3 linked regions of the Homo sapiens genome follow. The protein of the gene in region 3 interacts with the protein of the main gene of each other region in a pairwise test. Each region holds a gene or a part of one and is shown on either strand. Other genes may lie near its edges. The genes, in order: PPIL1, UBAC1 and CPSF6.

What was found.
Region 1: the proteins of CPSF6 (region 3) and PPIL1 interact in binary tests that used the Homo sapiens proteins (3 or more experiments, as listed by UniProt).
Region 2: the proteins of CPSF6 (region 3) and UBAC1 interact in a two-hybrid assay, tested with the Homo sapiens proteins (2 studies listed by BioGRID and IntAct).

The regions. Positions count from the first base shown.
Region 1 is NC_000006.12:36,854,329-36,861,823, forward strand, and holds the end of PPIL1 (peptidyl-prolyl cis-trans isomerase-like 1), read right to left. Parts: intron 2,327-7,495; coding exon 2,258-2,326; intron 1,706-2,257; coding exon 1,485-1,705; 3' UTR 501-1,484; downstream 1-500. UniProt on the Homo sapiens protein: Involved in pre-mRNA splicing as component of the spliceosome. PPIases accelerate the folding of proteins. Catalyzes the cis-trans isomerization of proline imidic peptide bonds in oligopeptides. Catalyzes prolyl peptide bond isomerization in CDC40/PRP17.
Region 2 is NC_000009.12:135,940,354-135,951,373, reverse strand, and holds part of UBAC1 (ubiquitin-associated domain-containing protein 1), read left to right. Parts: intron 1-3,468; coding exon 3,469-3,576; intron 3,577-5,002; coding exon 5,003-5,105; intron 5,106-5,376; coding exon 5,377-5,485; intron 5,486-6,123; coding exon 6,124-6,346; intron 6,347-11,020.
Region 3 is NC_000012.12:69,249,567-69,260,586, reverse strand, and holds part of CPSF6 (cleavage and polyadenylation specificity factor subunit 6), read right to left. Parts: intron 9,459-11,020; coding exon 9,249-9,458; intron 7,537-9,248; coding exon 7,433-7,536; intron 3,891-7,432; coding exon 3,745-3,890; intron 2,856-3,744; coding exon 2,682-2,855; intron 2,553-2,681; coding exon of another isoform or gene 2,442-2,552; intron 1,998-2,441; coding exon 1,493-1,997; intron 1,160-1,492; coding exon 1,044-1,159; intron 544-1,043; coding exon 390-543; intron 1-389. UniProt on the Homo sapiens protein: Component of the cleavage factor Im (CFIm) complex that functions as an activator of the pre-mRNA 3'-end cleavage and polyadenylation processing required for the maturation of pre-mRNA into functional mRNAs.

The sequences.
Region 1 (7,495 bases), on a different chromosome or scaffold from region 3:
TCATGGGGCATTTTCCCCCTGCATGCTGTTCTCACGATAGTGAGGGAGATCTCATGAGATCTGATGGTTTAAATATGGTGGTTTCCCCCGTGCTCGCTCTCTCTCCTGCCACCTTGTAAAGAAGGTGCTTGCTTCTCCTTTGCCTTCCACCATTATTGTAAGTTTCCTGAGGTCTCCCTAGCCATGTGGAACTGTGAGTCAATTAAACCTCTCTTGTTTATAAATTACCTAGTCTCAGGTAGTGTCTTTATAGCAATGTGAAAACAGATGAATACACCTCTTATTCAGAAATGTCAATTTCTGTCACTTAATTCTTTCTCTGGTTCTGCCCTTTTAAAGTTAGAATTGCTCTTAAAGAGGGAGAAGTCTACTGGAGATCCACAAGCCTAAAATGATGTGAAATCTTGAACATTCAATCTCTGTACTACTACTTAAGATGACTGGGATTAAAATGACCATTGGAACCTCATACAATATTTAGAATCAGACCACAGCAGCAATTTCAACCATCAATGGCATTTTATTGTGGAAGTTTCTATGTATTACATAGGTATTAACTTCCTTCCTCTCCTGCTCCTCCCCACAAAATCCAGAAAGTTATTTTTATACATAAACAACTGAACATATAAAAATCTTGGACCTAATTTCTCTAAAGTCTTGGGTTAAAAGAACTTGAGTGGCGCTTCTCCTTTCTGAGAGTACTACTTCTCAAGGAGGATTCATGGTCTGTCCTTTGCTCACTACAGATTTCTCCTCTTCTCTGGGAAAAAATGGTCAATGCTTCTGCTTCCTTTTAATAAACTAATTTCTTGATTATTATACATTATTATTATTCCCCACTTGACACCTTCTTAGAAACTTGATTGTTGGATGTGTTTTTCATTTGGCAAAAATTCAATGTGGCTTTGCGTGGGATGTCTGAAGTGTCAGAAACAGCACTGTTGATGTTCTGGTTTTGAGAGGGAAAATATATATAGAGATGCATACATTCCCTAGAAGAACAAATGTAAAAGACTGAAATAGGGCGTGCACAGAGTTAAGAGGGCTGACAGACACTACTTGGTTTGGAATTCTGTGGCTGTCAGCCATCAAGGACTGCTGTGTAGGCCAGAATATAAATCTCCTTAGGAAGAAGTTTGGTTAGGCAAAACCACTGAGAAATGACAGTGGCTGCTACATTGTTCGACGTATATCAGAGCAGACATGCACAAGAAGCAGCATTATGGTTCATGTGTAGTAAGTAGTCACCTATTGATAAACAGGGGCATTTGTGCAAATGCTCTGGCAACCTAGGCACTGGGGGAAGAGAAAAGAAGCATCCTATTAAAATGTACTTCCATCTCTAACTCACCCAAGATGCCAGGCCTCCTAAGCTTCATGACTTGCAAAGCCAAAATGAATTTAGCATTACATGTCATTCTATGTCATCTAGAAGCTGGTTCACTGGGGCCATCTCAGAAGAGCTGCTCAAGAGGGTAGCAAGTCTACCCAGAAGGGTATGCCTTAATGATCTTCACGTCGTCCACAGGGCGGTCCTGGGAGTTTGTTTCTACCATTCCCACGCGATTCACCATTCCTATGCCCTGACACACTCGGCCAAAAATGGTGTGTTTGCCGTCAAGCCACTGGGTGGGGGCGAGGGTCACAAAGAACTGGCTGCCATTGGTATCTGGCCCCGCATTGGCCATTGCGAGAATTCCAGCCCCTGGTGGGAAAAAGGAAGAAAGGAAAGAGTATAAATAACCCCACAGGTCCAGTGTAGAGCTGCTGCCCCATCCTAGGGATGAAAAAGCAGCCAGGACTTTGTTCTGGCCTCTGTCCAGACCCAGACAACCCCTCAGGGCAGTCTCTCTGCCCTGTACAAAGGCCATCACTACACTATTCTGGCGACTTCATCTTCCTTGTCCTCACCTATTCCCCAGCCTTGACCCCTGATGCTCCTCACTAACTGTGGACCATGTTCCTGACTGCCCTCAAAAACCCAGCAAGGTTTCCTGTTTCTTTGAGGACACTTTTGATATCCTGTGACCTTTAACAAGTAGTTAGAGTCTAGAACACACCGACCAGTGCTCTGAATTGCTCAGAACTTTGTGAGAGGCGCTGCTTTCTCTAATCCACCAGGGCACTTCATGGCGCCATGGCTGGGCAGCTATCTGGCACCATGCCACGGTGTCAGGCATTCACCTTGAATCATGGCCAAAAGAGTGAGCTTTTAAAATCCCCGTTCCTACCCAGTCCAGCCAAATTATACACTTACCCGTGAATTTCAAGTCTGGATGAAGTTCATCTTCAAACTGTTTGCCATAGATAGATGCACCACCTCGACCTGCCCGATTGGAAGATGACACATGAATCAGCCAGTCACACATTCTATCTCACAGCAAGAATGATGGCCCAGGGTCAAAGGATTTCTCAGAGTAGAGGAAAGGAAAAGGCAGTGACACCTACCCCACTGCTAGGTATATTGCAACTACAGAATCTAGCACTAATAGCACATTCAAATCATTGGTTTCATTCCGATAAGACTTTCCTTTTCAAAATAACGCTATTTTTTCCTGCACATTAAAATAATACATGTTCACTATCAAAAAGGTAGAAAACATAGAACATTATCAAAAGAACATTAAAATCCTCTGTAACCTGACCATCTAGAGATAACCACCATTCATAATCTGATGTGTTAAGAGGTTTCTTGATTTTTAACCTTTTTTTGAGTATTTTAGACATGAGTGCCCCAAGTCCTATCCCTGTGCCCATCACAGACATTGCCAATCAATCAGTATTCTTCCCTGCTGAGCTAGATTTGCCTCTGAATGTTATCAACCCAGAACTCAGGCAGCCGTTATTAATTAATCAGTAATAGCCCCAGAGTTGAAACCTATTTGCCACCCTTAACCTAGGTGATGGAAAATAAAATTCATTTAAGTTAAAGCTATCCAGCTGAAGGAGAAATAGCTGGTAAGTGGCAATGTGGCAGAAAGGGACATTACGGTCGGCAGAGTCCACTGAGAGGTGAGGCAGTACATCATTAAGAGAAAACAGGGCCAGGTGTGGTGGCTCACATCTAAAATCTCAGCACTTTGGGAAGCTGAGGCAGGAGGACTGCTGGAGGCCAGGAGTTTGAGCTGGGCCACAGAGCGAGACCCTGACTCCATAAATTTTTTTTTTTTAGAGATGGGGTCTTGCTACGTTGCCCAGGCTGGTCTCAAACTCCTGGCGTCAAGCAATCCTCCCTCCTTGGCTTCCCAAGTGCTGGGATTATAGGCGTGAACCACTGCACCTGGCTCACAAAAAAATTTTAAAATTCAGCCAGATGTGGTAGCACATGCCTGTAGTCCCAGCTCCTTAGGAGGCTGAGGCAGGAGGACTGCTTTGAGCCCAGGAGTTTGAGTTTACGGTGAGCTATGATCATGTCAGTATACTCCAGTCTAGGCAAGAGGCAAAACCTTGACTCTAAATAAATGAATAAAGGGAAAATGAAGAAACATGGGATTGGGAATTATTTGCTAGCAGCATCACCACCAAATGTTATTTATATTATGCCCACAAGAGCAGGGTGCTGGGCTGGATACCCTAAGCTCAGGCAGGTTTTGCTCTAAGAGCAAAAGGATGTAAGTTAGACCAGGCGCGGTGGCTCATGCCTATAATCCCAGCACGTTGGAAGGCCAAGGCAGGTGGATCACGAGGTCATGAGTTCGAGACCAGCCTGGCCAACATAGTGAAACCCCCATCTCTACTAAAAATACAAAAAAAAAATTAGCCAGGCATGGTGGCACACACCTGTAGTCCCAGCTACTTGGGAGGCTGAGGCAGGAGAATTGCTTGAACCCAGTAGGTGGAGGTTGCAGTGAGCCGAGATCATGCCATTGCACTCCAGCCTGGGCGACAGAGCAAGACTGTCTCAAAAAAAAAAAAAAAAAAAAAAAAAGATGTAAGTTAAACATGGTTTTCTCACAGGAAAACATGTCAAAACAGGAGGCAACTTTCCTAACCAATACTAATCAATTATGTAGTCAATCATATGCCTTACTGAACTACATTGGTTTCTCCAAGTTGAACGGTCACGACAAAACAGCCTAGAACAAAGTAAACACTGGATTGGTACTCTGCTTGCCCTGCAGCCCAGTGCTGGCAGCTCACTTCCTCTACTGCCTGCTATAAAAGTAGCACCAAGTCCACCCCCAAGGCCCCTGGGCATGGCTAAGGTGTTTCCATGGCAAAAATCCTTTGCTTTACCTTTTAGTCGGCTTCACCACAGGGAGCCTGTCACAGCCCCCGTTTCTTTTCCGGAAGAAAACACTGTTCTCATGCAAAGAGGGATGGGGGTGAATCCTAACAGACTAGGGGAAACCTCCCACTTGGCCCAGGCTACCTATGCTTCTGGAAAAATACTGAACCACACTAAACTGTGTAAAACTCATTCCAAAAATTCCAACCTGTCAGTATACTTCCAAACAGCAATTATATAACCAATATGTTCCCTCTGACTCAATCCTCCCCTTTGCTTGGTCCTTTGGCAACCACTAGAGAGTCAAGGTTCCTGGCTGGGGTTACCAGAGACTAGGGAGAGGGCTGTGGGGCCAGACGCCACAGAGGCCAGGCTCTGCGTGCAGGACTTGAGTGAGCAAGCTAAGGATTCAGTTCAGTAGTACGCTGTCAGTCTGTGGCCTGAGCTTCAAAGTGTGATCCCTGCAACCTGAGGGCTACCAGAACAAACCCCCCAGGACCCTGCCCTCTAGGAATGGTAAACTATCACACAAACATCACCACAAACAAGAAGTGCATTAAGGAATAGGTCAGTCAAGAGTCACAGATGGGCTGGGCATGGTGGCTCACACCTGTAATTCCAGCACTTTGGGAGGCCGAGGCAGGCAGATCATGAGGTCAGGAGTTTGAGACCAGCCTGACCAACATGGTGAAACCCCATCACTAATAAAAATACAAAAATTAGCCAGGCGTGGTGGCACGTGCCTGTAATCCCAGCTACTTGGGAGGCTGAGGCAGGAGAATCGCTTGAACCTGGGAGGCAGAGGTTGCAGTGAGCTGAGATCGCACCACTGCACTGCAGCCCAGGCAACAGAGTGAGACCCTGTCTCAAAAAAAAAAAAAAAAAAAAAAAGTCACAGATGAAGTGGGAATCAGAGGATACAGGAGGAAAGAGCATGGAGATCACCTTTACTCAATAGGCAGAGTTTTCATAATATCTTACTCATAATATGTTATCTTTTCATAACCCAATTCAACTCAGTAGGGTTTGCGGCAAAATTTCAGAAAGACAAATCATTCTAATTCAAACATTCCTCTGGGCACGTGGAATAAGTGAGAGGTGGCAGAGGGACAGAGAATGATTAAAGAGTTCTCCAGTGCAGAGCATGCTACTCAGATGTCAATTATCAGTTAGAAAGCCAACAATTTGGAAGCTTTGCAGGTTCTGTGCCTGGTCTAGCACAGACACAATGAAGATAGGCAGACCTGTTTTCTATTGTGTGTGTGTGTGTGTGTGTGTGTGTGTGTGTTTTGAGACAGAATCTCACTCTATCACCAGGCTGGAGTGCAGTGGTGCGATCTCGGCTCACTGCAACTTCTGCCTCCCGGGTTCAAGTGATTTTCCTGCCTCAGCCTCCTGAGTAGCTGGGACTACAGGCGCCCGCCACCATGCCCAGCTAATTTTTGTATTTTTAGTAGAGATGGGGTTTCACCATGTTGCCCAGGATGGTCTCAATCTTGACCTCATGATCTGCCAGGCTCGGCCTCCCAAAGTGCTGGGATTACAGGTGTGAGCCACCACACCCGGCCAAGACCTGTTTTCTAACCTTTGATTACAGGTTAGAAAAGAACCTTCAAGATTCTTTTCTGGCCAGGTACAAGTGGCTCACACCTATAATCCCAACACTTTGGGAGGCTGAAGGGGGCGGATCTCTTAAGCCCAGGAGTTGAGACCAGCCTAAGCAACATGGTGAAACTCGTCTCTACAAAAATTAGCCAGGCGTGGTTGTGCGTGCCTGCAGTCCCAGCTACAGCTACTCAGGTGGCTGAGGTGAGAGGATCACTCAAGCCCAGTAGGTCGAGGCTAGAGTGAGCTGTGATTGCGCCATTGCACTCCTGTCTGTCTCCAAAAAAAAAGAGATTCTTTTCCTCTTCTGTCCTCTGTCCTCTCTTGGGATCATTTATTCAATGTATTTATTTCAGACACGCAAACATACAAAGAATAATATGACCAATATCTATGACCACCTCCGCCCCCAAGAAATAAACTATTGCAAATCCAGCTAAGACCCCATGCATACACCCCACTGCATCTCTCCCCACCACTCATTCTCCTGAGAGCTAACAGCTGATTCAAAGAATCACATTTTCCTCTCAGGTAACCACTATTCTGACAAGAATTTGGCATTTCCATGCATTTTCTTTTTTACTACACATATATGTATCCCTAAAAAAAAAAAAAAAAAAGTATTGCTGTTTTGCATGTTTTTAAGCTTTTTTACTACACATCTATGTACCCCTAAAAAAAAAAAGTATTGTTGTTTTGCATGTTTTTAAGCTTACATAAGTGGTATTACACTTTATATATTCTCAACACTGTTTGAGAGACTCATCTACTTTGTTCCAGGCAGGTCTCTGTAGTGTTCACCTCACTGTATGACCATAATGCTCTGTCTTATCTTTTCTGGTGTTGATACTGAGGATCTTTCCAATGTTTTGGTTATTATCGACCATGCTATAAAAACTATTCTTATACTGTCTCCGAAATCCAAGTGCAAGAGCTCTCGGGGGCCAATACCTCACAGGGGATACACAGGGTCATAGTTTGAGTATTTCATCATTGCTAGATTTTTCTAAGTGCCTTATTGAAAAGGATGAACCAACATGCACCCCACCCCGCAGCACTCTCACTCTTACTGCTCTAGGTCCTTCTGTCAGTCTGAGAAGTGTGAGACCTCTTGTGGTGTTTTAAACTGCATTTCTCTGAAGTTTGGCATAATTTCATGTTTACTGGCTTATTTAGCTTGTCCCCTCTGTGAACGGCCACTCAGTGGTATGACATTTTGGAATTGATACATACAGTCATCCCTTGGTATACTCAGGGGATTGGTTCCAGGATCCCTGTGACACCAAAATCCCTGCTCGCTCAAGTCCCGCTGTGGGCTCTGAGAAAACTGTATGGACCTCCATGGTTCAAACCCATGTTGGTAAAGGCTCAACTATATACTATAGATACTAATCCTCTGTCAGTGAATGTTTTGCAAATACCTTCTCCCAGTTAACTTTTTTCACTCTTGTAATGGGATCTTCCAATGAACAGAACCTTTGCAGTTAACATTTCTTAACCTTCTTCTTTATGATCTGTGTTTTTTTTTTTTTTTAATTCCTTTTTTTTTTCTGAGACAGAGTTTCGCTCTTGTGGCCCAGGCTGGAGTGCAATGGTGCCATCTTGGCTCACCGCAACCTCCGCCTCCCAGGTTTAAGCAATTCTCCTGCCTCAGCCTCCCGA
Region 2 (11,020 bases), on a different chromosome or scaffold from region 3:
GGACCACAGGTGTGTGCCACCACACCCAGATAATTTTTGTATTTATGAATTAATTTTTAAGTCAAAGTGACGTATGTTTTTAAAAGGTCGAATAATACTACAAATCTTTTAATAAAAATTAGCAGTCTTGGCTGGGTGCGGTGGCCCACGCCTGTAGTCCCAGCACTTTGGGAGGCTGAGGTGGGAGGATCACTTGAGTCCAGGAATTTGAGACCAGCCTGGGCAGCATGATGAAACCCTGTCTCTACAAAAAATATAAAAAGTTAGTTAGGCTTGTTGGCACAAGCCAGGCAGTGCACACCAGGCTGGAGTGTGTGGTACGATCTCACCTCACTGCAGCCTCTGCCTCCTGGGCTTAAGTGATCCTTCTCCCTTAGCCCCAGGAGTAAAGCAGCTGGGACTATAGGTGTGTGCCACCACACCTGACTAATTTTTGTATTTTTTGTAGACATGGGGTCTCACCGTGTTGCCCAGGCTGGTCTTGAACTCCTGGGCTCAGGTGGTCTGTTCACCTTGGTCTCCCAAGTGTTGGGATTACAGGCGTGAACCACCATGCCCGGCCCAACCACTCATAACTCTTGTTATTTTTAACAATTCTCTTCCTGATTTATAAATAATATGTGTATATTATTATTCCTTGAATGACCAACTTTAGTCTCTATTGACTTCTTAATGAAGAGGCTATAGTACCTCCCTCTCTCCTCCCTTGAGGGTTAGATCATAATGTTGAAGATCTCAGGGTTTTCATTACTAGTATAATTGAAGTGTGGTTTTCAGCTGTGAGCAAAATAGATTAAGATTATCTATCCTTCTTACACAGCTGTATTTTTCCTGGAATTAATATTTGCCTCTTCCTTTTGTTTGCTTGTTGAGTTTCTTATAGGCTTATCGCTGATTTTTTCATGCTCTTCCACAGAGCCGATAAAGCTTCTGGAAACGTGGTCACAGATGTTAGGTCACTGGGGTGTTCCCTCCCTCCAGATCCCTCTGGCCTGCGCATCTGTCTGAGTCGCTGCCTTCCAGGCCTGCTGCACAGCCTGGCTTTCCTGCCTCTTTCCCGTGTTAGAGTTTGCTAAGTCTATGCAAGTTTTCCGTTGCCACCTAACAAATCGCCACACATGTAGCTGCTTAAAACAGCACTCCGCTTGTAGCTCGCAGTTCTGTAGGGCAGAAGTCTGGCTGGGTGAGCTCAGCTGGTTTCTGTGCTCAGGGTCTCGAGCTGAAATCAGGGTGCCGGAGGGCTGTGTTCAGGGTGCTGAAGGGCTGCCTTCCTTTCTGAGGCTGGGGAAGATTCTGCTTCTGAGGTCTTCCGGCGGTTGGCAGAGTCCAGTTCCGACCCATTTTCTTGCTGGCGGCCAGCTGGGGGCTGCTCTCAGGGCCTGGGCGCGGCCTGCATTCCTACCCGCACAGCCTCCTCCTCCTTCAGAGCCAGCAACAGGACTTCTGAAGTGTTGAATCTCTCTTTCCAGAAAGAGACCCATCCCTTTTAAGGACCTGCCTGATTAGTTGAGGCCCACCAAGGATCATACTCTTTCCCCACAGTCGGCTGTGCCGCGTGATGTAACCTGACCCCAGAGTGGACTGTGTCCTGCTCATGCTGTGCAGCCACGCACGGGCAACTGCCAGGCCCGGGGAGCGTGCGGCCGTCCTCGAGTTCTGCCTGCCGCAGGACCAGGTGTCTTGTTCTTCTCGATCTGTCCCTTGGTCTGGTGGAGCCTGACTTCCTCGGGTGCCAGGAGGGGAAACTGTCTGGAGGCCTCGTATTCCAGCGCAGCAGCTGTGGAGGGGGTGCCAGCCGTATGCAGTACGTGAGGCAGCTCTGAGCCGCTCCTCCCTGCACCAGCCGCCTCCCCTTCCTCTGCTCCTTGTAGAACCTTCTGCCATCTGGTGTGCTTTAGTGTTCTGGAATATTCCATGGTGTCTCTGCTGCAGGTCTTTTTCTCTTTGCTATGTCCGGCACATTGACTCTGGAGATTCAGATGTTTGAGTTCTGGGAAATTTAGTCCTGGAAAATGTTCTGAATTGGTTTTTTGATCTCCTTGTTTTCTTTTCTCTTTCTGTAACTCTTATGAGTTGGCTGGTAGGCGTGTTTTCTGAGGGATTCCTTGATTTTATCTTCTAAGCATTCTGTAGCCTCTTTGATCTGGCTGTAACATGTTTAAATTCCTAGGCCAGTTCTCCTCCTCAGATGATGTCTTCTAGTGTTCTGGTGTGTTCCTCCGTGGGCCGTCTGTCCTGGCTCATAAACACTATCCTCTTCCCTGCTGACTCCTCACTTTGTGCTGCTTTCTGTTGTTCCTTTTTTTTTTTTTTTGAGATGGTGTCTCACTGTCACTCACCCAGGCTTGAGTGCGGTGGTGTGATCTCAGCTCACCTCCCAGGTTCAAGTGATTCTCCTGCCTCAGCCTCCCGGGTAGCTGGGATTACAGGTGTGCACCAGGACACCGGGCTTATTTTTGTCTTTTTAGTAGAGATGGGGTTTCACCATGTTGGCCATGCTGGTCTCGAACTCCTGACCCCAAGTAATTCACCCACCTTGGCCTCCCAAAGTGCTGGGATTACAGGCATGTGTCACCTTCCAGAGGCCCTGGATCTTGATAGCAGCGCTTTGGGACTGGGTGGCTGGCTGGGGCACTGCGCTTTGGGTGTGGACCCTGCCATTTTGCCCCCTCCCACCTCTTGGCTGTGTCTGCCCCGCTCCCCTGCCACTGGGTCTCCCTGTGGAGGGTGCTGGGGTGCCGCTTTCCCTCTCATGAGCCTAGGGCTCCTGGCCCGGGGTCTCAAGCCCAGCTCTCTGGGAGTTGCCGGCAGGACTGGATGGCAGGGGAGCACAGGGCAGGGTGGCGGGGGATGGAGCGCTAGCTCCTGAGGCTCGCTCCTTGTCCCCTGCCACCGATGCAGTTCTAGGAGGCTGGAATGGTCTTGCGTCCATGCTCTGCTCTTGGCCTGAGCCTTTGTAGCTCCGCTGATCCCTCCATCCTCGTCCTCTGCCGTCTTCTGAGAATGTGCTGTCACTCTTCCGGTTCTGTTCCTCTCCCATCACTTTTGTTCTCGTGAGTTTCTACTGCCATGACTGCCCTTCAGGAGCTTCCAGAAGGAGCAGAGATGAGTTCGTGGTTTTGGCCTCGGGGCTCAGCTGCAGCCTGGGTGGTTCTTCTGGAGTCGCCTCCCTTGCCCCAGCCCTGCCACGGTCCCTGTGTGGTTGTCGTTCTGTGACCCTTGCTCCTGCTCTGCCCCTCACCTACCGCTTCACTCTTATTTACGTCAGAGCAGACGCTGAGGACACGTCTGCTGTCCCTGGGCCTTGCACAGAACTCTCCAGGCTCCCCCAGCTCATCAAGGAGTTTACACCTCTGGCTCCTAAAGGAGACGGAGTCTTTCTTGGGCAGAGCTCCGCTGATTCAGTTGTCATCGTCTTTTTGCTGCTCTTACGTTCACCTCAGACTTTCTGATTACGTTTCTGTGTAGAAAAAACAAGACCAGAAAGCTCCAGATAAAGAGGCCATACTGCGGGCCACCGCCAACCTGCCCTCCTACAACATGGACCGGGCCGCGGTCCAGACCAACATGAGAGACGTGAGTGTCAGCCCAGAGCGGCGGCGGGTGCATGGGGTCCCCGTGTGGGGGATTGCTGTGGGGGGGTTCCTGCGGGGCGGGGCAGCAAGAGGAGATTCTCTGGGAGGATTTGGGGAAGCCGGTGAGCGGGTCTGTAGGACTGCACTATTTTGCATTTTTTCTGTAAATCAAAAATTATTTCCAAGTAAGAGTTGGAAAGCCATCTGAAGGCAGGATTGAAAAGATAGATACCCCTGGGAAAACGTCAATCCGGCCCTGAGTTTGGCAAAACGTTTAGATAGAATTCTGAACCCGAAGCGGGTGGATCACCTGAGGTCAGAAGTTCGAGACCAGCCTGGCCAACATGATGAAACTCCGTCTCTACTAAAAATACCAAAAATTAGCCGGGCGTAGTGGCAGGCACCTGTAATCCCAGCTATTCAGGAGGCTGAGACAGGAGAATCACTTGAACCCGGGAGGCGGAGGTTGCAGTAAGCCGAGATTGCATCATCGTACTCCAGCCTCGGCAGCAAGAGCGAAACTCCGTCTCAAGAAAAAAAAAAACACACAAATCTGAACCCGTGAGTTATTTTGGGTCAGAACATTCTAAGTTAAAAAAGAAAAGTGTTTGCAGTGCTCACGTGGACGCCGCAGCAGGCAGGGCAGGCACGTGCTGTGCCGGGGTGGGAGGACGGCTGGCTTCCAACTTCATCTGATGCCAGTCCAACCTAAGGGCACTGCTATAAGCCCTGTTTCATTTTAGGAATGAACCTCTTGGGGTGTCTTCCAGAGAGTTCTGTGCTGACCAGGGCATGGTGGCTTTTCCCCAGCAGCCAGCATGTGTGTCTCCCATCCTGTGTGTGTCCGGCTCAGAGGTATTTCTCTAGTGTGGTGTCCGCACCAAGGCTCACACTTGTGTGAGAGTAGGGACAGCTGACGCCTGACCTCTAGGCCCTGTAGCCAGGAGCTGTTCTGGAGGGCATCTCCGGTCCATCCCACGGCTCCTCCTGCCTGGGGAGGACAGTGATGGCCGCCGCAGACGCTGTGTGGCAGCCATGCCTCCACTGGGGGCTGGCAGACTCATGGGGGTGGAGCCTCAGATGATTCTGTTTTCTTCAGTGAAGCCAGAGAGGGTCTTCAGCTTGCCCTGCACCTGCGCCAGCTGGGCCGACGGTTTCCTCACAGGGCACAGGCTGAGTATCGGGCCAGCACTGAGTGACCGTCACCAGGCGTTCCTGTCCCTTTCCACTGGCTTCAGTCCCACCTGCAGGGAGGCTCTTGGCCCTGCCAATCCCCTGCCTTGCCCTCAGCTGATCCTGCTGTCTTGCAAGAAAGCAATGTCATCTCAACTCTCAGAATCAAGAGTTCTAGGACAGGGGAGCAAGTCATAGATCCAAGTAGGTTTGGTGGACATTTAGAGAATTGATCTCCTTTTTTTTCACCACAGTTCCAGACAGAACTCCGGAAGATACTGGTGTCTCTCATCGAGGTGGCGCAGAAGCTGTTAGCGCTGAACCCAGATGCAGTGGAATTGTTTAAGAAGGCGAATGGTATGAGTCAACCCCGATGCTGCATTCCAGGGCGGTTCACTGCCGGCCTTGGGGAGCGTCTGCAGCTCCACGCACTGACCACTGACCGGAACCTCAGTGCTTTATGGAAGCGCTGATGAGGGCCTGGGGCCTGCCTCACCGGCAACTCCTGTTGATGTGCCTGAGGGCGGGCAGGTGGAGCTCAGACAGATAATTGCTGCAAATGTTTGTGCTCAGATAAGGCCCCTGAACCTGAGGCTGGAGCCCTCATGGCCCTGTCGTCTCCCTGCAGCAATGCTGGACGAGGACGAGGATGAGCGTGTGGACGAGGCTGCCCTGCGGCAGCTCACGGAGATGGGCTTTCCGGAGAACAGAGCCACCAAGGCCCTTCAGCTGAACCAGTGCGTGGGGGGCCACCTCCTTCCCTTGCCGGAGACACCTGGGGCCTGGTTTTGTGGGGCTCCCACCGTGGGTGACGTCCTCCTACCCTAAACTCTTTGACTGAATCATTTCTAACGTGGGGTTTTGAAGAGGTACCTTAAATATGTGCCTCCAAAGTGTTTTTGGGGTGAATGTGACAGAACAGTCGTTGTGTAAATTCTCTTTGGGCCGTTGTATGAGAACTCAAGGTGAATCCCGTTCGTAGCAGGGACACGGCCTCTAACAGTCTTCTCAGGATTCCCGTGTGAGTTACTTGCCCTGCTTCTGTGTTCAGATCTAAAATGAATAATCCGAGATCCAGGGGCAGCCGGGGGCAGTTCCCCCTGTGGTCCCTATCTAAGCCCTCAGCAGATATCTCTGGGTCCGCTTGCCTCTCCTTAGACATGGGCTTCTGATTCTGCCCAGGGTCTCAAGGTAGTCTGAGGCAAGGACCAGCGCTTCCGTCGCACCTGTGTTCATTCAGGTTCTTGTTATAAGGGTCACCAGCTGATGCTGGAGAAGTCACTACCATAGCAGAGGCTCTTCTTGGGAATGGACAGGAGGCGAAGGCCCTGGTCCGTTAGTCTGGGGATGTTGGAAAGAGTCTCTTGCCTTGCAGCATGTCGGTGCCTCAGGCCATGGAGTGGCTAATTGAACACGCAGAAGACCCGACCATAGACACGCCTCTTCCTGGCCAAGCTCCCCCAGAGGCCGAGGGGGCCACAGCAGCTGCCTCCGAGGCTGCCGCGGGAGCCAGCGCCACCGATGAGGAGGCCAGAGATGAGCTGACGGAAATCTTCAAGAAGATCCGGAGGAAAAGGGAGTTTCGGGCTGATGCTCGGGTATGTGTTACTAGACCTGTCGCCAGGCAGAGTCGCTGTGTCTTCCCTTGAGGTGGCGCCATGGAAAGGAAGCTGGGGCTGCATGGCTGACCTTGGGCTGAGCTGGCTCCTGTCCCAGGAGAGAGAGAAGCTGGGGAAGGGGTTTACAGGTGGGCCTGGGAAATGGCGAGCCTGGGGGCGGTGGGCCTGGGGACCGTGGCCCGAGTTTCTGAGCACACCTGTAAGTTATCCTGGCTTGAATCCAGGCGCCCCAGTTTCCTCTGTGTTGCCACATTCGTCACCTTTTGAAAAACTTGATATTTTACAGTTCCTTCTGACCACTCATCCACAAGCCCCCCCTGTTCGGCAGCCTCTCTGCGGGGTGGGGGCCCTGCCCAGAGACCGGGAGGGTCATTTGCCGTCGGGGGTGTCCATGAGCGAGGGGCCGCTCAGGCTGCCAGCCGCCTCCATGGCACAGTCTGCAGGGCTGAAGGGTCCCTGCGCCTGTGTGTGTGGACCTTCCTCGCCCGCGCCTCATCTCCCCATTCTTCCTTCTCTCTCCTGTTCTTTGATTCGGGTTTTACTTCCTCCTTGGAGGTTTCTGTCTGTCTCCGACATGCTCAGATGGCAGATCTGCTCCATCTGCATGCTGTCGTCTCGTGTGGCACTGATCGTTTCCTTGGGGTGTGTGACATTGTGCTGTGGCCTCACCTGCGGAGCTCGTGTTTTCCATGGAGTTCCATGTGGCCAGGCTGTAGACATCCACCTGGGGTGATTCTGAGTTTGCTTCTGCTGGTGATGAGTGGGGCCCCTGCCCCACCATGTCCCGCAGTGTAACCCCCGGCTTCGCAGCTCAGGTCTTCCCTGCACAGGGTTCCGTGGAGACAAATGCTTTTCTTTGTTTCTTTTAAAATTTAATTTAATGTTAAGTTCTGGGATACATATGCAGGATGTGCAGGTTTGTTACATAGGTAAACATGTGCCATGGTGGTTTGCTGCACGTGTCAGCCCATCACCTAGGTATGAAGCCCAGCATGCACTAGCTATTTTTCATGATGCTCTCCCTCCCCCAGACCCCCTGATGGGCCCCGGTGTGTGATGTTCCCCTCACTGTGTCCATGTGTTCTCATTTTTCAGCTCCCACTTATAAGTGAGAACATGAGGGGCTTGGTTTTTTGTTCCTGTGTTAGTTTGCTGAGGACAGTGGCTTCCAGCTTCATCCATGACCCTGCAAAGGACGTGATCTCGTTCCTTTTTATGGCTGCATAGTATTCCATGGTGTATATATCCCACATTTTCTTTATTCAGTCTATCCGGTTTCTTTTCTTATCCGTGGGCATTTGAGTTGATTCTATGTCTTTGCTATTGTGAGTAGTGCTGCAGTGAACATACGTGTGCACATATCTTTATAACAGAATGATTTCTATTCCTTTGGGTATATACCCAGTAATGGAATTGCAGGGACAAATGGTATTTCTGTTTCTAGGTCTTTGAGGAATCACCACATGTCTTCCACAGTGGTTGAACTAATTTACATTCCCACCAGCAATGTAAAAGCGTTCCTATTTCTCCACAGCCTCACCAGCAGCTGTTGTTTCTTGACTTTTTAATAATCATCATTCTGATTGGCATGAGATGGTATCTCATTGTGGTTTTGATTTGCATTTCTCTAATGATCAGTGATGTTGAGCCTTGCTCTGTCGCCCAGGCTGGATTCTTCCTGCCTCAGCCTCCTGAGTAGCTGGGACTACAGGCACACACCCACCACGCCCAGCTAATTTTTGTACTTTTAGTGGAGACAGGGTTTCACCATGTTGGCCAGGCTCGTCTCAAACTCCTGACCTCAAGCGATCTGCCCGCCTCGGCCTCCCAAAGTGCTGGGATTACAGGTGTGAGACACTGCGCCCGGCCAACTGTCTTCTTTTGAGAAGAGTCTGATCATGTCCTTTGCCCACTTTTTAATGGGGTTGTTTTTTTCTTGTAAATTTGTTTATTCCATGTAGATTCTGGATATTAGACCTTTGTCAGGTGAATAGATTGCAAAAACGTTCCCTTCTGTAGGTTGTCTGTTCACTCTGAGGGTAGTTTCTTTTGCTGTGCAGAAGCTCTTTAGTTAGATCCCATTGAGACAAATGCTTTTCTAGTCTATTTTCTCATCTTTTCAGGGTCCTGTTTTAAGTAAGGGTCTCAGTTCCCACTCCCTACCTCCCATGGGCCCAAGGCGCACGTTCTGTCTGTGTGTAGACATCAGACCCCGCCCTCCCAGGGCAGCCCCTGCGCACACCCTCTCCCAGGGCTAGCTTTCTGTCTCTTCCTTCTTGGGTTTCTCACTTGTGGATATCCCTTTCTTGTGAGGTTAGCTCTGCATGTAAAAGTTTCTCTTTTTTTTTTTTTTTTTGAGACAGTTTCACTCTGTCACCCAGGCTGGAGTGGCGGTGGCACAATCATGGCTCACTGCAGCCTTGACCTCCTGGGCTCAAATGATGCTACTTCAGCCTCCTGAGTAGCTCTTACAGGCACGCACCACCACACAGGGCTAATTTTTTATTTTTTAAAATTTTGTACAGATAGGGATCTCCCTGTGTTGCCCAGGCTGGTGTTGAACTCCTGGCCTCAAGTGATCCTCCTGCCTTGGCCTCCCAAAGCGCTGGAATTACAGGCATGAGCCATTGTGCCTAACCTAAAAGCATTTTTGTTTTATTTTCATCTAGCATTTCTAGGTTTAGCAGGAAGTTTGTCTCGTTGTGCTTGTCTCCTAGGGAGCCAAGTTTACATCTGATCCTGGAAGCCTGTCCAAGTGGAGCAGTCACTCTCCAGCTGGGTCCCTTGTGCTCTGAGGTTGGACTTCGCACTCTCGTGTGTTGTGGTCCTGCACGGTCTCTTGGAGGTTGTTAGTCATATACTTTCTTGCCATCTTAAGCCTTTTTGTTAAATATGGATGCTCATTCTTAACAATCTTAACGTGCTCGTTTTCCTAAGATCTTCCCCATTGCCATTCCCTCCCGTCATCTCTCTGTGTCAGAACAACATTCCGTAGAATGTCTTCTTTGATGAAAATCATCACAAGGTGGTCAAGGCTTGAGGGGCCAGCCCATCAGTCCTCCTAGCCTTTGGTTTCTGTACAAGTCATGAGATCAGGCAGTCGTCCAGTAGGGATCGAGATACTAGCTTTGTTACTGAGAAAGGATTGGAGAGCTCTGACTTGAGGCCAAAACAGATTTCCTGCTGCCCCTCCCTTCCCAGTGGTAGACAGGATGCCTGCTGTCCGGGGGCAGAGCTGGCAGGGCCCGACGTCCTGCAGCCCGTGAGCGCAAGGCCCCTCTCCCATTGCCCACAAGCAAGTCTTTGCCCCCATGGGCTGGGAGGGAGGGCAGGGACTGCCAGGTGTTGCCTTGGGAGTACTGGGGCATCATTTCCTGGGCTGAGGTAGAAATGAGCGACAGTACTTCCTATTGAAGCTAGTGAGGAGGGCATCCTGTCCTTGAATTCAGTAGATTCCAGGCTATTCTGTATGACTTTGATATCAAAATATTGTGCGGTGGGTTCTTCCAGAGTTCATTGTTGGAGCTCCTGGATTAGGGTGTGGCTCAGGAAGGCAATTGTGATGGACCATAAATAGAAAATACAGAGTTTTTTCTTTTTTGAGATGGAGTCTCACTGTGTCGCCCAGGCTGGAGTACAGTGGTGCGATCTTGGCTCACTGCAACCTCCACTTCCCAGGTTCAAGCGATTCTCCTGCCTCAGGCTCCCGAGTAGCTGGGATTACAGGTGCCCGCCACCACGCCCAGCTACTTTTTGTATTTTTAGTAGAGATGGGGTTTTCCCATGTTGGCCAGGCTGGTCTCAAACTCCTGACCTCAAGTGATCCTCCCACCCCGGCCTCCCAAAGTGCTGGGATTACAGGCGTGAGCCACTGCTCCCGGCTGGGACTTTTGACCTGATCATGCACACAGTTTAGCTCTAGCCAGCATCCTTCCTGAGCTCCACCCCAGCTGAAGTCTTTTTCTGCCAGGTTCTCTTGGAAGCATCTGATGGTGCAGTCCAGACTGGCTGTGGACGTGCACCGTCCGCGGGGTGCAGTGCTGCATGAAGTCAGCCTGGGTGGTGCTGGGAGCTGTGTGGGGCTGGCACCCCTAGACCACCTTATGGTGGCCGGAAAACTGCCAAAGATGGAGAGGACTCTGGGGGCTTCAAGAGAGTGGGATCTGACCTTTCAGGGATTAGGAGAGGCCCTTGAAATTTTGATGAAGCCTTCATCTTACTTATTTATATTTTTTCAAAATGGACCCCTTTAAACATTGTGGTATAAATCTCCAGAGTAGAGGATGTATTATCTTGTTACATGAATTGTGTCCAGAAAATGTATGTCCTTCCCCAAAAACGAATTAGCATATGTTCAGTTGTAGCTTAAGTTTTGTTCAATATTAAAAGTTAAAAAATTAGTTTTAGGATTTTTTTTTTTTTTTTTTGAGATGGAGTCTCGCTCTGTCGCCCAGGCTGCAGTGCAGTGGCGCGATCTTGGCTCACTGCAAGCTCCGCCTTCCAGGTTCATGCCATTCTCCTGCCTCAGCCTCCCGAGTAGCTGGGACTACAGGCGCCTGCCACCACGCCCAGCTAATTTTTTTGTATTTTTAGTAGAGACGGGGTTTCACCGTGTTAGCCAAGATGGTCTTGATCTCCTGACCTGGTGATCCG
Region 3 (11,020 bases):
ATGTGAAGAGACAGGGAAAACTGCTCCCAGCAGAAGGAATATAAAGTGAGGTGGTCAAACATTTGGTGTACCTAAAGAAAAGGAGAAATATGGAGAAATACTCACTGGAGAACAGTGAGTAAGGGGAGAGGTACAAAATGAGGCTAAAAAGATAGGCAGGGGCTTTATCACACAGTCCCTCAATCTTTACAGTCTTGCTTTAAGACTGAGTAGGAGCCTTTAAAGGGTTTTAAGCAAGCAACTAACATTTAGAGTTAAAAAAAAAAACCACTCCAGCTGCTAAATAATCAGTAAGTAAAAGCAAAGTCCTCCTTTTAAAGTCTCACAGTATTTTTTCCATTTGTAAACTAACAGTTTTTTTAAATGGAAATGAGACAGGAAAGTTTTACCTTGATCCAGAACCATAAGACTTGGACTCAATTCCATGAAGGCAATCTTGCAAAGAACTAATAAGAACTTTGCAACGATCATCAGCAGATACTTTGGATTGTTTAATTAAAGAAATTGCAGTTACCAGTGTCTCAATAGCACTCCCATAATCACCTGTGAGGGAAAGGAAAGGGTTTGAAGTCAAACAAATTTTGTTTTCAAAACACCATCAAACCACTTGGGATAAGAGTGATAAGGCATTTTACAAAAGTACTGTGCTATAAAATAACTATGCAAGACAATGTCTTCTTTCAGTGTTTCACCATTTGCAAAAGCCTTTCATGCTCATGATATTGACTCAACTTATTATACGTGTGTGAAGCACATTATCATTTTGCAAATATAAGAATAAATAAGGTGTCATGAGGCCCCTGAACCATTAAATGTCAAGGGTAAGACTTAAATCTATACCAAATAACTTAAAATTTGGATTTTCCCCACTACACTGTGACACACAACTTTTTTCAATGCTTTTTAAATAAATCGTAGGTAATGATTTGGGAATATAAAAAGAACTACTACATGTAAATGACCTATCTTCTAGATTGTACTTACATTTTTAGGTCATTCCTAATAACATAAATAAGAAATATTAATACAAGAAATACACAAACCAGCACTGGCATCAGACACAGCTCTCGAAATAGCACTGCTTGAGATTGCCCTATTTCTATTCATGATTTCTTCAAATTCAGCTTCACTCAATGGCGTTCTTGCAGTATCCATTTCCCTGTAAAACAAAAACATAAACCTTAACTCATACTCAACAGATTTCCTCAGTTAGTCACAACAGTGTATAGCAATTCATACTAGCTGCTTCTGACATGTGCTTTAGAGATAGTAGTTACTTTTCCATATTGAAGCATGCTACTTTTCCAACAAAGAGAACAAATCTAAAAATTCTCCTATACCAGTATCTTTCAGCTAAAACAGGGTAGCAGCTTAAACACCTCATCTTCTTGGAAGGCAGAAATAACATATTTATATACCTACAATCTAATATTTACAGTCATTGTTCCTATCTTTTATCATCAAGTACTTTCACAGATACACACTAACTTACCTTCCAGGGGGGCCATAGTCACCCCTATCATATGGTGGAGGTCGCCCATATGGATCTGTTGGTGGTGGACCTCGGCTATCTGATGTAGGCATGCCACTGTTAGTTGGTGGAGGAAAGAAAGCTGGGTTCACATGCGGAGCTGGCGGTGGGGCACCTGGAGGTGGTCCAGGAAGATGCGGAGGAGGAGCTAGTGTAAGGGGTGGCCCAAGTGGACCGGGTGGACGAGGTGGAAAGGGGCCTGGAGGTGGAGGTGGTCCCTGTTGTGGAGGTGGTGGGCCAGGAGGGGGGCCGTAGCCTGGAACTGGAGGTGGAGGGCCAGGAGGAAGTGGACCCAATGGAGGCTGCCCAAAAGGTTGTCCAGGAAAAAGAACTGGTGGTGGAGGGCGATCTCCTCGATTAGGAGGCCCAGCTAGAGGAGGAGGCAGAACCTGACCAGGAGGTGGAGGACCTGGTGGACCAGGTGGGCCTGGAGGACCTAAGGGTGGACGTGGTGGAGTCTGTCCAGCTAAAAAACAAAGGAGAAAGAGAGAAAAAAAAACACTTCACTAATAAGATATTTTAACTTTTATATGCCAAGATTATACTTTAAACGCATAGAGCATACACCAAGTCTTTGTCTTTAAATTAAACCCGTATGGTAAATGTTACACTACCAACTACAATGAAGTATATCCTTACAAATTTAACTAGCTCAATTTATGCTTAAGAAAAATTATTGAAACGAAAACTTTAATAAAAAAATATTACAATGCCTAGAGATATTTTCCATCTTTCCGTGTACACACACTTCTTACAGTGAAATCACCCACCTTATATTCTACTCTGATGCCAAGCTAGAAAGTGAAACAAGGAAAAATGATCTTGAAAGGATTTTTTTAAGAGGTAAGAAAGTAAGACGGATGTAAATATTCTATATATAAGTCAAGCAAGTTTGGAGAAAAATAAAGACCTTTTAGGCCAAAAATGGGTATTTCCTCTATGCTGTGCCCCATATGCCATGGAATCCTAGTTTCCAGGAACAAAGGCCGAGTTCCTTTAACAAGATGCTTGATCAAATTTCCTGGATTCCAAAAATAGCATAACAAGGAGAGTAAGTCACATTAATAATGCATTACTTGAAAAAGAGAGAAAAGGAAAAGAGGTATTAGGTAGACATGTTTTATCCATGGTAATTTAAGAAAAGTTTTACCTGGAAAAGGTGGGGGTGGCCCTCCTGGTCCTGCTGGCCCAGGAAATCTGTCCCCACCAGGAACAGCCCCTGGAAAACGGCCCCGTCCTCTACCACCTTGTGGAAATGCTGCACGGGAACTGCCTCCTGGAGGACCAGCTTTACCTTCCCCAGACATTTGTCCTGATTGTGTAGCTGCAAATATCCAAATACTCATAAATAGCACTTATTAAAAATAGTTTTCTGAAATGTAACCACTATTATTAAAAACAACTCTATTTCTAATATATTAACTTGCAAATGCCTTGTGCCTATGCAAACTACATAAGAAAGTATGGTTTAGGAAAACATTCACATCTATTTGGGTACTTTTAAAGACTCAAAATATCCAGGTTTAAATATATTTTCCATAGGTAATCGTGAGTTACTTTCAAAATACCAGCACTCTGCAGCAGCCAAGACCGAAATTCTTCAACAGATATCTTAATTTCAGTATTACATCATTTAAATTTTGTAACACACTTCTTCAGTTAAGTCTTAAGTGCTAAAACATTAAAAGAAAAGGAACCACTTGAATTTCTGTTAATTACATAATCATCCATCTCATCTCTTTAAAGATAATGTACTTAAATGTATAATGACAAATCTTTTCTATATTCAGTTTACCAAGTGGTGAAAGGTCTTGTTGCCAAGCAGAAAAATCAATGAACATTTTCTGGTTATCAGTGATCTCTCCCCCACCATAATACACATCCACATAGCTCTCCTTTAATCTAAGAATTAGAATGTAGTTTCTTTCTGTATCTAAGATGGAAATAATAGGACAAGAATGGCAGGGCTATAGAACTTGCACATTGTTGTATAGTATTGGGTCTGTTACATCTGGAGAAAAATGGAACAGGAGTAGGTTTCTCGTACACAGGCCCACAGTCATAACCAGTGATTAAATCTAATTCAAAGCATGGACTTTGTGAAATGGAGTTCCTAGTGAGCTAGTATTAAGATGACTTCTCTAGTATAACACCTAACAAATGCACTGGTTAAAATGTACATATTTTAATAAAAGCCTCTGAGGACTGCTTACTTTTCCTGGACTGCATTTCAAATTGACTCAGGAACTGTTTATTGCATGGAGTTACAACAGGATTCTGACCATGAAGTTCTCTTTTAGGTAACAGATCCATTAACTTTTTTGAAGATGCTTCAGATCCAACACCAACAAGGGCAAACCTAAAAAGTGTTTAAGGGGTGAGGATACAAAGTAAAAAGAGATCAATATTATTACTGTTATTCTTCTGTAAAAAGGTCTTAATCTGCTTTTATCTAAAACAACAGCTGGGCACAGTGGCTCATGCCTGTAATCCCAGCTGCTTAGAAGGTTGAGGCACGAGGATTGCTTGAGCCCAGGAGTTTGAGGCTACAGTAACCTATAATCACACTACTGCACTCCAGCCTGGGCAACACAGTGAGATCCTGTCTCTAAAAATAAATAATTTTAAAAACTAAAAATATTTCTTAACTATACGAGTACACATTTTTGTTCATCTTGTATAACATACCATAGAATTCAGTCATTCAAAATATATAATTCAGTGGTTTTTAGTATTTCACAGTGTTATAACCACCACCATAATCAATTTTAAAACATTTTCATCACCCCAAAAAGAAACTCCATATCCATTAGCCATCGCTCCCATTCCTTCCCATCCCTGTACCCTATGGAACCACTAAACCTAATTTCTGTCTCTGGACTGGCCTATCCTAGACATTTCATCTAAATGGAATCATACAATAGGAGGTCCCTTGTGACCAGCCTTCTTTAACTAGCATGTTTTCAAGCTTCATCCACTGTTACAGCATGCATCACCACTTACTTTTATGGGTGAATAATTTTCCATTATAAATATACAACATTAAAAGAAATGTATCCATCAGTTCATGGACATTTGGGTTGCTTCCACTTTTTGCTACAATAAAAAGATGTACAATATCATTAACTATTGGGGAAGTGCAAATCAAAACCACAAGATACCACCCCATACCCACTAGGGTGGCTATAATCAAAAAGACAAGTATTAAAGATGTGGAGAGGCCGGGTGCAGTGGCTCACGCCTATAATCTCAGCACTTTGGGAGGCCAAGGCAGGAGGATCATGAGGTCAGGAGTTCAAGACCAGCCTGACCAACATGGTGAAACCCCGTCTCTACTAAAAATTCAAAAATTAGCCAGGCATGGTGGCGTGTGCCTGTAGTCCCACGCTGGGAGGCTGAGACAGGAGAATCGCTTGAACCTGGGAGGCAGAAGTTGCAATGAGCCAAGATTGCGCCACTGCACTCCAGCCTGGGTGACAGAGTGAGACTCTGTCTCAATAAATAAATAAATAAATAAATATGTGGAGAAACTGGAACCATTGCACATTGCTGATGAGCACGTATTAATAAAATGGCACAATGCCTCTGGCAAATAATCTGGTAATTCCTCAAACATTTAAACATAGAGTTACTATATTAACCCAGTAATTCCATTCCTAGGTACACATCCAACAGAACTGAAAATACATGTTCACACAAAATGGGTACACAAATATTCACAGGGGCATTTTCCTTAATAGCCAAAAGTGGAAATAACCTAGACGTCCATCGACTGATAGATTAAAAGAAAAAAGTGCTATATCCATGTAGTGGAATATTACTCAGCCATAAAAAGAAATGCTGATGCATGCTTCAACATGGATGAACCTTAAAATCATTATGCTAAGGAAAAAAGCCAGTCACATAGGACTACGTATTTTATGATTCCATTTAGATGAAATGTCCAGAACAGGCATATCCAGAGCACGTTAGCAGTTGCCAGCAGATAGGAAGAGAGGAAATGGGAGTGACTGCTAACCAGGTACAAGGTTCCTTCTTGGAGTGATGAAATGTTCTGGAATGAGACAGTGGTAATGGTTGCTAAACTTCATAAATATAATAAATTATCATTGAATTGTACATTTAAAAGCCTGCATTTTATGGCATATGAATTATACCTCAAAAAGAAAAACAAATTTAAAATAATCAGAATGATTACCAATTCGTATAGTTACAGGATATTCTAAATTATTTGAGGGAGGGAGGGTCTTAGTAGCTTAAGAAGCTTAAGCTCTTTTCCCCCTAATGTTCAATATGATCTTTTAAATTATCCTTCTTATTTTAGTCAACAAGTTCTGCTGTTTGCACCAGGATTATCTTGGGTCACAACATTTAGAAAAAACTAAATTAATTTAACAAATATTTATTAAGCACCACTTCTTATACGCAAGGTACCATTCTAGAGCTGGAGAAGTAATAGAGAACAAAACAAAATCTCTGTTCTCATTAAGCTTAAAGGCTTGGAAGAGGAGACAACAAACGAGTAAAATATATCAGAGCAGAAATAAAGGAAACAGGATAGGAAGGTGCTACTTTGCACAAGATGGTCATGGAAGAAAACTCTTAAACAGTTTGAGTCCTGAATGAAGTCAAAGAGTAAGCCATGTGGATATTTGAGGGGGAAAAGTAAACCAAGAAGAGAAAACAGCTAAAGGTCCTAGGTAGGAATTGGTCTGGCCAACAGCAAAGAGACTAATGTGGCTGAAAAAGAGTGGTAGGATAGGGTTAGAAAGGTGGTGGGAAAACAGACCAGAAAGTACCTTGTAGACAATGGTAAAGAATGAGACAGACAGGAAACCATGAGAAGATTGAGCAGAATGTCATTTTTTTTTTAGAACTTCTGTTATGTGGAGTACAGACTGTAGGGGGCAGTCTATACTTCCAGTTAGGAAGCTACTGCCAAAGTTTAAGTGAGAGATGATAGTGGCTTTGACCAAGTGGTATAAGTAAAGTTAGTGAGAAGTATTCAGACTCTGCATATATTTTGAAAATATTCTCAGTTTAGTATAAATTGGTATAATCTTCTAAGATAAGTAAGCAATATAAGAAATAAGAAAATTCTTTATCATTGTGCATCTAACAATTTATCCTTAAAAGAAAATCCAAAATCTGTACCAAAAGACTTATATAAAATGATGTCTGCTGCAACATTATTTACAATAGGCAAAAGTGGAAACCACCACGATAACCAAAAATAAGAAAGGTAAATTACAGTAGCATACCAGGTATGATGCAAAAGAATTAGACATTAGAGAGGATGTGTATTTATTTTTATTCCTTATATCAAACATATAAAACACATGAATTATAATTCCATTATTTATTTATTTATTTATTTTTAGGAAAAAGCCCAAAAGAATCTTCACTAAAATGTTAAAAGTAAACATCAATGAATGGTAGGACAGTGGTATTTTATTTTCTTACTTTTAGATATCTGTATTTATAATGTTCTCATGCTGAGGCTATCCCACTTGTATAGTTTAGTAGTGAAATAAAGCAAAATATCCATGTAACACATTATTCAGTTGCCCATCTTCTCCCATCTCTTAATCACAGGGAGAGTAATGGTTCTTAAACTGTCATTTCAACAACCATTTCAACCACAGATAGAGAAAACTTGGGAAAAATAGAAAATAAATCTGTCCACATTTCCACTCTACTGGTTTTAGTGTGTTAGGTAATAGGGTACGTAAAATGAAAAGTATCAATCTTTGCCCAAGAACCTCCTTCCAATGTAAACAATCATGTGTTGTTTGTATACATGTGTATACATGTGTAATTAACATTAACTTAAAGGAAAGTTAACTTGTAAAAACTGTATCACTAGCTACTAAATCAAAAAGAAAGAAAAAAAAAACTTACCCCTTTGACTGGCCATTTGCCCGATTTTCAAAAAATTTTATCTCCAAAATATCATTTACTCCCAAAGAATGAACTGCTTCAGTTAAGTCTTCATCTGTTGTCCACTGCAAGATATTTTCCCCCTCATTAACCATTAAAATAAAACCAAGATTTTTATTATCCCAGTCTAGTTTTTAAGGGGAAATTTGAGACATAAAAGAGAAAATAAATGCTGAGTGCAAATCTAAGTCTAGTTATGGCCAGTCAGACTCCAATTTTTAAACAGCACAAAAACCATCTGGGAACCTAACTTCATTCCCTGATAAGTATTTCAGAAACTAGAAGGTATATACCCTTGGGGTTACAATAAGATTTGACTCTCAAGAGTTTCTGGTCCCTTACAGCTTTAAACTGCTATGATTTTAAATTGTGAATAAAACCAATTTCACTTCCTCCCATTAAAGGAAAGTATTTTGAATTTCATCTTGTTTTTGAATTAAAATGCAGATAAGAAAAAACTAACATGTATTTAATATCTACCATATACTTTATGTATCAACTAACTCTTATAACAACCATATAAGCACTATTATTATACCCATTTTACACATGATACAATAGAAGTTAAAGAGCTTTAACTCTTTAACAAGGTCACAAAACTAATAATAGATGGTGGAGCTAAGATCCAAATACTTACTTAGCAACCATACTTTCATAACTACACTGCTACTGTCTCCAATTTTATAGAATACTCAGACTGGGTGGTGGGAGATCTGTTACATTTAGTTTTAAAAGAAATGTAAATAGGCTGGGCACCATAATCCTAGCACTTTGAGAGCTTGGTTAGGAGGATCACTTGAGGCCAGGAATTTGAGGCCAGCCTGAAGCAATATAGCAAGAAGTCAGCTCTACAAAAGTGTTTGTTTTGTTTTTAATTAGCCAGGCAGAGTGACACATGCCTGTGGTCCTAGCTACTTGGAGGCTGACACAGGAGAATCACTTCAGCCCAGGAGTTTGAGGCTTCAGTGAGCTATGATTACACCACTGCACTCCAGCCTGGGTGACAGAGTTTTGCAAATTCTGTCTCCCCCTGAAAAAAAGAAATGTAAATAAAACGTTTAAAAATACAGTGTTATTAAGGAAATGCAAGGGTGCCAAGTTTTATTGATTTTTGCATATACAAGTTTTTAACTTTCAAGTATACATATAACTAAGTAGAAATACAAACATTCTATAGGACTATTTTAATGATACTTAAGATGTAATATTAATAAAAAATAAATATACATATGTGCATTTAATGAAGCTCTAAATCAATAATCTTAGTCTCATGACAACCCAAATTAAAATATAATACGCACAGAAGTGCTTCTATAAATCAGATTTCAAATTTAAGGGCAGAAATAAAACTCAAATTTGTAACACAAATTAAATAATGGACACTATTTTTAAACCAGGAGTGATACTATGTCTCTTTCCTTTTACACTTGAATCCTGGTTTGAGACCCCATGTGAGCATTATTTTTAGTGAAACTGGGCTATCGGAAGCAAGGTAAAGTGGTAGCATAAAAAAGGTAACTGAAGACAAAACTAATTTAACTATATTTAACTAGTATCTCCACCAAGAAAAGTTGAATGACCACAAAACTCAAAACTAGAAGAATTCGAATTAACGATGTTGCAAAGATATTTGTATTTCCCTCCTCATTGGACAAGCAAACACATATAGAAAAACACAGTAACTTCAAACTTATAAAAATCTGGAGAAAAACATTAATTACTAGAGCAGTTCAAAATCAATTACCAATAATTTAATTCTTATATTAACTTCACTTACCCATGTTAGATTTCCAATATATAATGCAATTCTCTTTCCAGTATATGTATAGACAACATTTGGTGCTGCTCCTTTACCCACATCATCACCAACAGTTGGTGGGAGAGTATCCATGTAATCTCGGTCTTCTGGGGCATCTCCATTATTTGCAGATGGAGATATGACATCGTCATACAAATCTATCTGATCATGCCCACCATATTCAGCTTCCTGAGATACAGAAATAATGCTCTAGATTATACAAAAGTCAAAATACTACTAAAATAGACTTGAATACAAATTCAACTTTTTGTTTTAAAAATCTGATGGAAAAAGGCCAAGGATTTCAGTACAAATCTTTTTCCACTTTATGCAATAGATGTATTCTTGAACAGGTCTAAAAAGTGAATTTCTTGCCGGGAGTGGTGGCTCACACCTGTAATCCCAGCACTTGGGAGGCCGAGGCAGGTGGATCACTTGAGGTCAGGAGTTCGAGACCAGCCTAGCCAACATGATGAAGCCCTGTCTCTACTAAACATACAAAAATTAGCCAGGCATGGTGGCACACGCCTGTAATCCCAGTTACTCAGGAGGCTGAGGCAGGAGAATCGCTTGAACCTGGGAGGCGGAGGTTGTAGTGAGCCAAGATCGTGCCATTGCACTCCAGCCTGGGCGACAGAGCAAGACTTCATCTCAAAAAAAAACAAAAAAACAAAAAAAGGGGGTTTCCTTTATTTCTTTTCTTTTTTTTCTTTTTTTTTTTTTTTTTGTAGAGACCAGGTCTCGCTACATTGCCCACGCTAGTTTCGAACTCCTGAGTTCAAGCAATCCTCCTGCCTCGGCCTCCCAAATATAGGCTTGAGCCACTGCACCCAGCCTAAAGTTAATTTCTATATAACGAAACCTACTTTTCCACTGATATTTATTATAATATAAAAAATAAGTTCTTTTGGAAAAAGACATGGAAACAAAATAAGTAACATGAAACTTTCCTTGGAAATACTCTTAACTAGAAGTAATAACACACAAATGCAAATAGACAAGTTTTTTTTAAACTGACAGTAGAAAAATCACCCCAAAATCCAAAGCCATTATATCTTTAATATGACCACAGAAAAATAGTTATTATTTTCTATAGTATTCAGATCTTGTTTTCCAACCTTGAGGAAGCTACCAGTATTAAAAAAAAGCATAGTGAGCTGAGCCATAAAAGAAAGAAGAAATATGGGTATGTAAATAATTCAAAATGTCGTAATAAATGAACAAGGTAAAGAGAAATAAACGAAATACATGTAGAACAATCCAAATTAATTATCTTGCAAGTTGTATTATTCTCAGTGAACAAAGAGCTAATGCTTACCTGAATTCTTAGTTATCTAGTCAAGCAAATTAGCAAGAGAAAAGCAACAGACAACAAAAAGAGTATAGTAAAGCTTTGGCACTGTCACCAGCAGAATTAAAGCAATGCTACTGGGTGTCACTTACATGCCTAAATGATAATCAGGGAAAAGGAAAACTAAAATGAAACAGAAACAGGAGCAGGAAAAAAATAGAAGAGGGTTCAATTTGTAACTAAGTACATGAAAAATGAAATGTAGGTAAAAGCAGAACACTCAACACTATTTAATTGCCTTTGATAACCATTAAATAGACCATAAGCTTGACTAAGCCTGTAGCACAGGAAAATCTCCATTTTTATCTTCTACTCTCCCTTTCCACAACTAAGTACTTGTATTGGTGTGAACCATTTTATTCTTATGACATAGAACATCTGACATAAGGAAAAAGACAAT